Homo sapiens: one gene and its partner. The protein of the gene in region 2 interacts with the protein of the main gene of each other region in a pairwise test. Each region holds a gene or a part of one and is shown on either strand. Other genes may lie near its edges.

The links. The genes of interacting proteins can lie anywhere in the genome.
Region 1: the proteins of RRP15 (region 2) and CLN8 interact in a two-hybrid assay, tested with the Homo sapiens proteins (one study listed by BioGRID).

Annotation. Positions count from the first base shown.
Region 1 is NC_000008.11:1,780,676-1,784,430, forward strand, and holds part of CLN8 (protein CLN8), read left to right. Parts: 3' UTR 1-3,755. UniProt on the Homo sapiens protein: Could play a role in cell proliferation during neuronal differentiation and in protection against cell death.
Region 2 is NC_000001.11:218,330,193-218,333,947, forward strand, and holds part of RRP15 (RRP15-like protein), read left to right. Parts: intron 1-755; coding exon 756-899; 3' UTR 900-3,755.

The DNA of each region.
Region 1 (3,755 bases), on a different chromosome or scaffold from region 2:
CTTCTAAGGGAAATACTAACTTTCTTTCGCATTAGTATTAATTTTGAAGTAGCTACAAAGTATTTTTAAGAAATTATAATTTTATGACTGTCTGGCAGGCTCTGTCAGTTTAGCCGCGCCGGACCGTGTCAAGCATCTAGGAGAGGAGTCCATGGTGTCCAGGCATCGGGGCGTCACACCTGTTGAGGAGTGGGGTGGCTTTGAATGCTGGAAATGGCTTCATAGTGAAGTGCCTCCCACAGGGCGGGTGGGTCAGCGTTGACTCTTTCCAGCTGCACACTCATATGCCGTGTGTCTTATTCAGAAGTCACATTCTTTTCAGTTGGAGAGAATTGGGCTAAGATAGAAAATAACATGATTTGTTCCTTATTAAAGCTTCCCAGCGTATGAAATTCTAAGCTGGGTGGGGTGGCTCACACCCGACGTAATCCCAGCACGTTGGGAGGCCGAGGCAGGTGGATCACTTGAGGCCAGGAGTTCGAGACCAGCCTGGTCAAGATGGTGAAACCCCATCTCTACTAAAATTACAAAAATTAGCCGGGTGTCGTGGCACACACCTGTAATCCCAGCTATTTGGGAGGCCAAGGCAGGAGAATTGCCTGAACCCGGGAGGCGGAGGTTGCAGTGAGCTGAGATCGCACCACTGCACTCCAGCACTCCAGCCTGGGTGACAGAGCAAGACTCTCTCTCAAAAAAAAAAAAAAAAAAAAATTCTAGACCGAAGTGTACGGCAGTGCCATCTGGTGGCAAGTGGTACAAAGACAACGCTGAGGGGTAGTGACTCCTGTAGCAGCAGAGACGCCTTGGAGTTTAACCCCCACCAACCAGAGCGTGGGCTGGTAAAGATGAAATCTTGCAAGTTTTTTTTTTTTTTAAATCATGGTACCTGTTTTAAAATGAGAAGTTATTATTCATACTGTGTTGCTCATTTGACAAAATAAGGTAAGGATTTCATAATCAGGTTGTCTGGGTTTCAGAGCTGTTTTTAATTGACTGAGTTACCTACAGGCACCCAATCTAGACCCTAATTCTGTGGTTGGTGTTCCTCTGTAGATTTCAAGACAAGTAGTGATGTCATTTTCTCCCTGAGCTGTAGGGTGGACCTGGACCCCTCAGAGATGCTCGACTGCAGGGTCCTGGGGTCCCTAGAGTGGTCCTGCAGCAGCCCCTGGCAATGAGCTGCCTGATGATGAGTCCCAAGGTACATTGTTCTACTGTTTTATACCCAGGTAGAAGTTACACAGCAATTTAGCAATGTTGTTAACAGACATACAGAATTGTGTGTGTGTGTGTGTGTGTGTGTGTGAGTGTTTTGATATAAACGTGCAATTAAAATTCAAAGTTTATTTTTTATCACAAGCACCTTTGAAATGTACGTGGAAAACGTCGGCTGCTCGTGAGAATCATGTGTGACTTACGTTCCTTATGTTTTATGGAACTCTCGGAACAGTGTTTTGTTTTTGTTTAGTTTTTGTTTTCGTTTTTTTGAGACGGAGCCTGGCTTTGGCTCCCAGGCTGGAGTCCAGTGGTGTGATCTCGGCTCACTGCAACCTCCACCTCCCGGGTTCCAGGGATTCTCCTGCCTCACCCTTTCAAGTAGCTGGGATTACAGGTACCTCTACCATGCCTGGCTGATTTTTTGTATTTTTAGTAGAGACAGGGTTTCACCATGTTGGCCAGGCTGGTCTCTGACTCCTGACTAAAAGTGATCTGCCCACCTCGGCCTCCCAAAGTTCTGGGATTACGGGCGTGAGCCACTTCACCCGGCCCGGAGCGGTGTATTTTGATTGCTGGTGCTTTAACTATATTGACCAAGGTGTATAGTAACCTATTTATCACATTTTACGAAGCAATTTTAATCTTAAACACATCCAGCAAATGGTGTCCCTGCTGAAACTTTTAACTGGAAACCTCACACCTGGCAGGCAGCACTCTCTGCAGCCGTGCCCTTGTGGAGTCAGCAGGAGCTGGTGTTTTTCAGCCAGACAGAGGCATAATAAAGTGACTGATGTTTACAGAACCCAAATGATGTCTTCCTCTCTCTCAAAATAAACTAACCTATTCATATTGCTGTGAATGCTTTATCTTGGAGATAGAAAATATAATGATAAATTCATCATGTGTTCAGAATTCGATTTGGAGTTGGAAGTGGACAGCCTAATTTTTATCTCACCTCCACTAGGACTTTGACCTTCCCAGGGGTCCACACTTTACCTCCTGTATCTTCATACGCGTGTGTGGATGCATAGAGATGGAGGTGCTGTAGAGAAGCACAGGCTCACCCGCTCCGTCCAGTGTCACCCACACATTGGTCCGGGGACCCCTCAGTGCAGAGCCTGAAGTTGGGGGTTTAGGGGTGGAAAAGGCTTCGTGAAATGTTAATGATGCGTACACCTTCCAGATGGCACAGCACTTTCCCATGGTCCTCACTGGCCTCAGTCTCCCTGACCGGCAGTGTGAGGGGATGTAGCTATAGTGGAGCATGGTACAAGCGACATTCATGAGCTCTGACTTCTTGGTGCCAGGTTGGTGTGAGCCTGGGCCCGGCCCACTCAGCGGCCCACATTGGCCAGCATTCAGCTGCACGTGTGTGCTGCGTGCTTCACATCCTCTATTGAGAGTTACAGCAAGTGTTAAACGAGGTGAGTTCACATAACAGGAATTCTGGAACTGCTTGAAAACTAGGACGATTGGGCAATATCGGCCTTAACTCCACCTGATGGCAGGTGACCCGGATAGAAAATGGCCCTGCGTTTAGCCAGGATGTGGCTCTCCAGCTTGGCTTCAGTGTGATCACTTGTCAGTGCGCTTTCTCTTTCGATAGTGAAATCCTTCTCTATACCTATGTTTTGTTTTGTTTCTTAAGTTGGGAAACAGAATGGGCCAGGGAGGTTGAGTGACTGAAGACCAAGGGTTGGTGCAGCCTCCTCGCCGCGCTGCGGGGGCTGGGCCGCACAGGCTTCTGCCCTTCTCGGTGTCCAGGCTCCTTGGGTGATGCTGGAGTTGTCATGGCCGCAGTTCAGTGTGAGATTTTTTACCAGGTATTGCGCTTAAGGGACATGATTTTCCATTTTCTTCGCCCGGACAACTTGAATGAAATGGGCACTGTTGATTCCACTTCTGTCGAGGAGCTTCGGGGCTCAGAGAGGTGATGACGTGCCCAAGGTGACGCAACTCGTGAACAGCCGTGCCTGCCTTGGGCGCAGCCTCCGGCGCCAGAGCTGGGCTCTTCAACACGGCATTTAGCGCAGAAAGTCGTGGTTCAGGCAGTATGGGCCGCTGTGACAAAACACCTAAGACTGGGTAGTTTATAAAGAACAGACATTCAGGCCAGGCACGGTGACTCACGCCTGTAATCCCAGCACTTTGGGAGGCCGAGGCGGGTGGATCATTTGAGGTCAGGAGTTTGAAACCAGCCTGGCCAACATGGTGAAACCCCATCTCTACTAAAAAAACAAAACTAGCTGGGGGTGGTGGTGCATGCCTGTGGTCCCAGCTACTTGGGAGGCTAAGGTAGAAGAATTGCTTGAACCTGGGAGGCAGAGATTGCAGTGAGCCGAGATCACGCCATTGCACTCCAGCCTGGGTGACACAGTGAGACTCCATCTCAAAAAAAAAAAAAGAACGGACATCATTTCTCACAGTTCTGGAGGCTGGAAGTCCAAGATAAAGGTGTGGGCTGATTAGTTTCTGCTGGGAACACTGCATCCTCACGTGGTGGAGGGGATGGAAGGTCAACAGGCCTCAGCTAGTTC
Region 2 (3,755 bases):
GAGTGCTGCATCTATTGTATTACTTAATTGATACCACAAGGTGGTACTGTTGTACCATGAAATGAAAGGCTGTAATTAGTACCACATAAATCCTGTGACTAAATGAAACGAATTGACTACCTATTATGTTTATTGCCTGCTTCATTTATTTATAATTTCAACATACGATTAGTCTTTGATTACATGATTGGGTCAGGCAGTGAGCTCATAACCTAAATAAAGAACATTTGGTTCAAATTTTTATAAAAACATTAAGTGAGATGGCATCTTAAAAAACCTAGCATAGTACCAATGTAGTTTCTTTTTCCCACTTTTAATTTACTTTGGGTTAAATGCCTTTGTTAAATTGTCAGTTGCGGTGAAATAATTTGCCCAAAATTTTCTAGTAAATTATCACTGAAGGTTAAATAGTATTGTAAGTCTGTTTTTTGTTGTCAGAAGTGCTTAAAAAATTAATACCAAACCTAGATTTATATTTTTTCCCTCACTTCAAAAAAATTTTTTTATTTTGCTTTCATGTTTCTTTTATGGAGTCCATACAATATTTTATTAATGTTTAGTTCTTTATTATACATTTGTACATATATAATCATAGTATAATCATAGTGTATAAAGTAAGTCGATTTATAATTTCTCTTGGTTTTACCCCTATTTTAAAAACTAAGCATTGAAAAGTTTGTTTTGTAGCTTGTACCTTTTTGTTTCCTTATGATGGAATTGACTTTTGAATATTTTGATTCTATAATTTTCCTTAGACTGAAGTGAAATCAGAAGAAGGCCCAGGTTGGACGATCCTACGTGATGATTTCATGATGGGAGCATCTATGAAAGACTGGGACAAGGAAAGTGATGGGCCAGATGACAGCAGACCAGAATCTGCAAGTGACTCTGATACATAAAGCATCATAGGAAATACAATTGCAGTCGTTTTATTTTTTCTAGAAAAATATGTCATCCTCTGATAGTTGGGGAATTATAAGGATACCATTTGTAAGAAAGCCAAAAGACTTTTGCCAGATTTCATATTTCCCCTTTTCATGTACACTTTATATATACTTCATTAAAATTATATTTTAAACCCTTGTATAATTTTAAGCATTGTTCCTCAGAACATTTGTAAAAGGATATATTTCTGCTTGACCAGCGAGATGTGCATTTTGCCAGGATCATATTGGTCATGTCTATTGGTGTATTATTTCAGTATCACCAATGTTTTCAGAAATACAGTACTAATTCATCATTAAACTCTTTGAAGTTAATATTTTTCTGCCTTCTAACTTATAGACTCAACTATGTATCTGTAGTTTTTGGGAATGGTTGGTGTTTTTTGCTTTGTGTTGGGAAGTTATTGAGAAAACCTATATAATAAAATTTAAAATTATAGTTTTTCAGATTTTGGGTCGTGATTTTAGTTTTAGGTAATCTGGAAGATATGATTTAAGAAACAACAGATTTCAACTTTTTTTTTTTTTTTTTTTTTTTTTTTTTTTTTTTTTTTGAGACGGAGTCTTGCTCTGTGGCCCCGGATGGAATGCAGTGGCGTGATCTCGGCTCACTGCAAGCACCGCCTCCCAGGTTCACGCCATTCTCCCACCTCAACCTCTCAAGTAGCTGGGACTACAGGTGCCTGCCACCACGCCCAGCTAATTTTTTGTTTTTGTATTTTTAGTAGAGACGGGGTTTCACCATGTTAGCCAGGATGGTCTCAATCTCCTGACCTCGTGATCCACCCGCCTCGGCCTCCCAAAGTGCTGGGATTACAGGCGTGAGCCACTGCGCCCGGCCCAGATTTCAACTTTTATTTTATTTCCTTTCATTTATTAAATAATATAAATAATGACAGATTTATTTTAGGTGTTAGCCTATTTTTGCATGAGAGATTTACAGAGGTGGAAATTCTCATGCTTAACTTATGCAATGAGACAATTTCTCAGGAAGCAAGTTTGACATGCTTTAGTCTCTCTCTTCTTTTTTTTCCTCCCAAATATTTGAGTTAGCTTAAATTCTTTTTTATGGACTGCCCAACCAGTGAATTGATGCACTTAGACAACAAGTAATCTGCAGCAGAATATTGCATCCAATTTGAGACTTGATTCCATATTATTGCCTTAAAGGCTATTAAATTGGGTGACTTTTAGTATCCAGCTGTTAAAAAGAGGAAAGACTGTTTAATATCATTCCAAAATTTTTGTGAAATGTGGCCCAAGATCTAAAGTTTTTAAGGGAATTATTTTTAATAAATATGATCTGTCCCTTTTTGAAAAGGATCCATCCCTTTTCATAATAAAAATAATTCCCTCCTACCACCCAGTTGCACATACTTGCATCTGTTATGTATTGAAGGATAATCCCCCCCAAAAAAACTATCCAAGAGCAGAGATGTTTATATTTTGAAACCCATTTGAGTGTTACAGTATTATATGACTAAAGCTGAATCAGTCTGTGGCCTGGTATTTGTTATCATAAAGGAAGATGTACACCTAAGGTATCAAGTGGTTAAAACAGCAAAGTACAAGATGCATTTTTGTATTTATTCTAACTTTTGAACATTAGTGTCTTTCAGTATAAATAAATGTGAACAAATATACCTCAGTAGTAATACAGGAGAACTAAATATCCTGCTATAACTTAATACAGATACATATTTCAATATGACTTAACAAACACACAATTTTGAAAAAAAAAAAAAAAAAGTGCAGCAACTTAAACACATTTTTCTCCCCAGAACTAAGATTACACTTAATTTAATTTAATGTGTTTCTGCGTTATACTAGAGTTTTGCAGGAATTTTTCTGAATAGTACATTCACATGATAGATACGGATAAATACCTTATTTACTAAAATGTTTTGAAACATATTTTATAGTCCCTCATTTGATTTGAAAAAATTTGACAAGATCTTCACATTGAAAGTAAGGACGAGAATATTTGCAGATTTCCTTCGTTCCAAAATTATTTTATTCCAAAGAAAAATTGAGTTGCCACTATCAGGAAAAAAAAAATGTATCACTTCTGTTAGAAGGCTATGAAGTATATATAAATTATATGACAATTTTTATCATATAGATTTGATATCTTCTATGTATTCGTATTTTTGCATCTTGGGTATTAAGCAAAATACCATATGTATAAATATGAAACCAGGAATGTGCATATTTTAGAAACTAATTGTGTATCTTAAGTGAATGTTTTGAGTAGTTCTGTCACCCCTATTCTAAATATTTTACCTACAACATTTAAATTATTCTGATATCAATCAGATAAATAATCCGAGTGTATTTCATCTTTCTACATTGTCTTTGTGGTTTTTGTTTGTTTGTTTTTGAGACGGTCTCACACTGTCACCCAGGCTGGAGTGCAGTGGTGCAATCTCAGCTCACTGCAACCTCCACCTCCCAGGTTCCAGCTATCCTCCCACCTCAGCCTCCCAAGTAGCTAGGACTACAGGTGTGCACCACCATGCCCAGCTAATTTTTTGTCTTTTTGATGTAGATGGGGTTACCCCATGTTGCCCAGGCTGGTTGTGAACTCCTGAGCTCAAGGGATCCCCCCGCCTCTTGCCTCCCAAAGTGCTTGGATTACAGGTGTGAGCCACCATACCACCTGTCTTTGAATTTTTTAACGAGGGGAAAGAAAACTGCAATTCCTGCCTCCCCATTTATTTAAACATAACACCTAGGATTTTATTTTTGGTAACTACTTAGAATAATATAGTAGGTTACTTATCTTCGGTTAGAAAGAACTATGGAAAATAG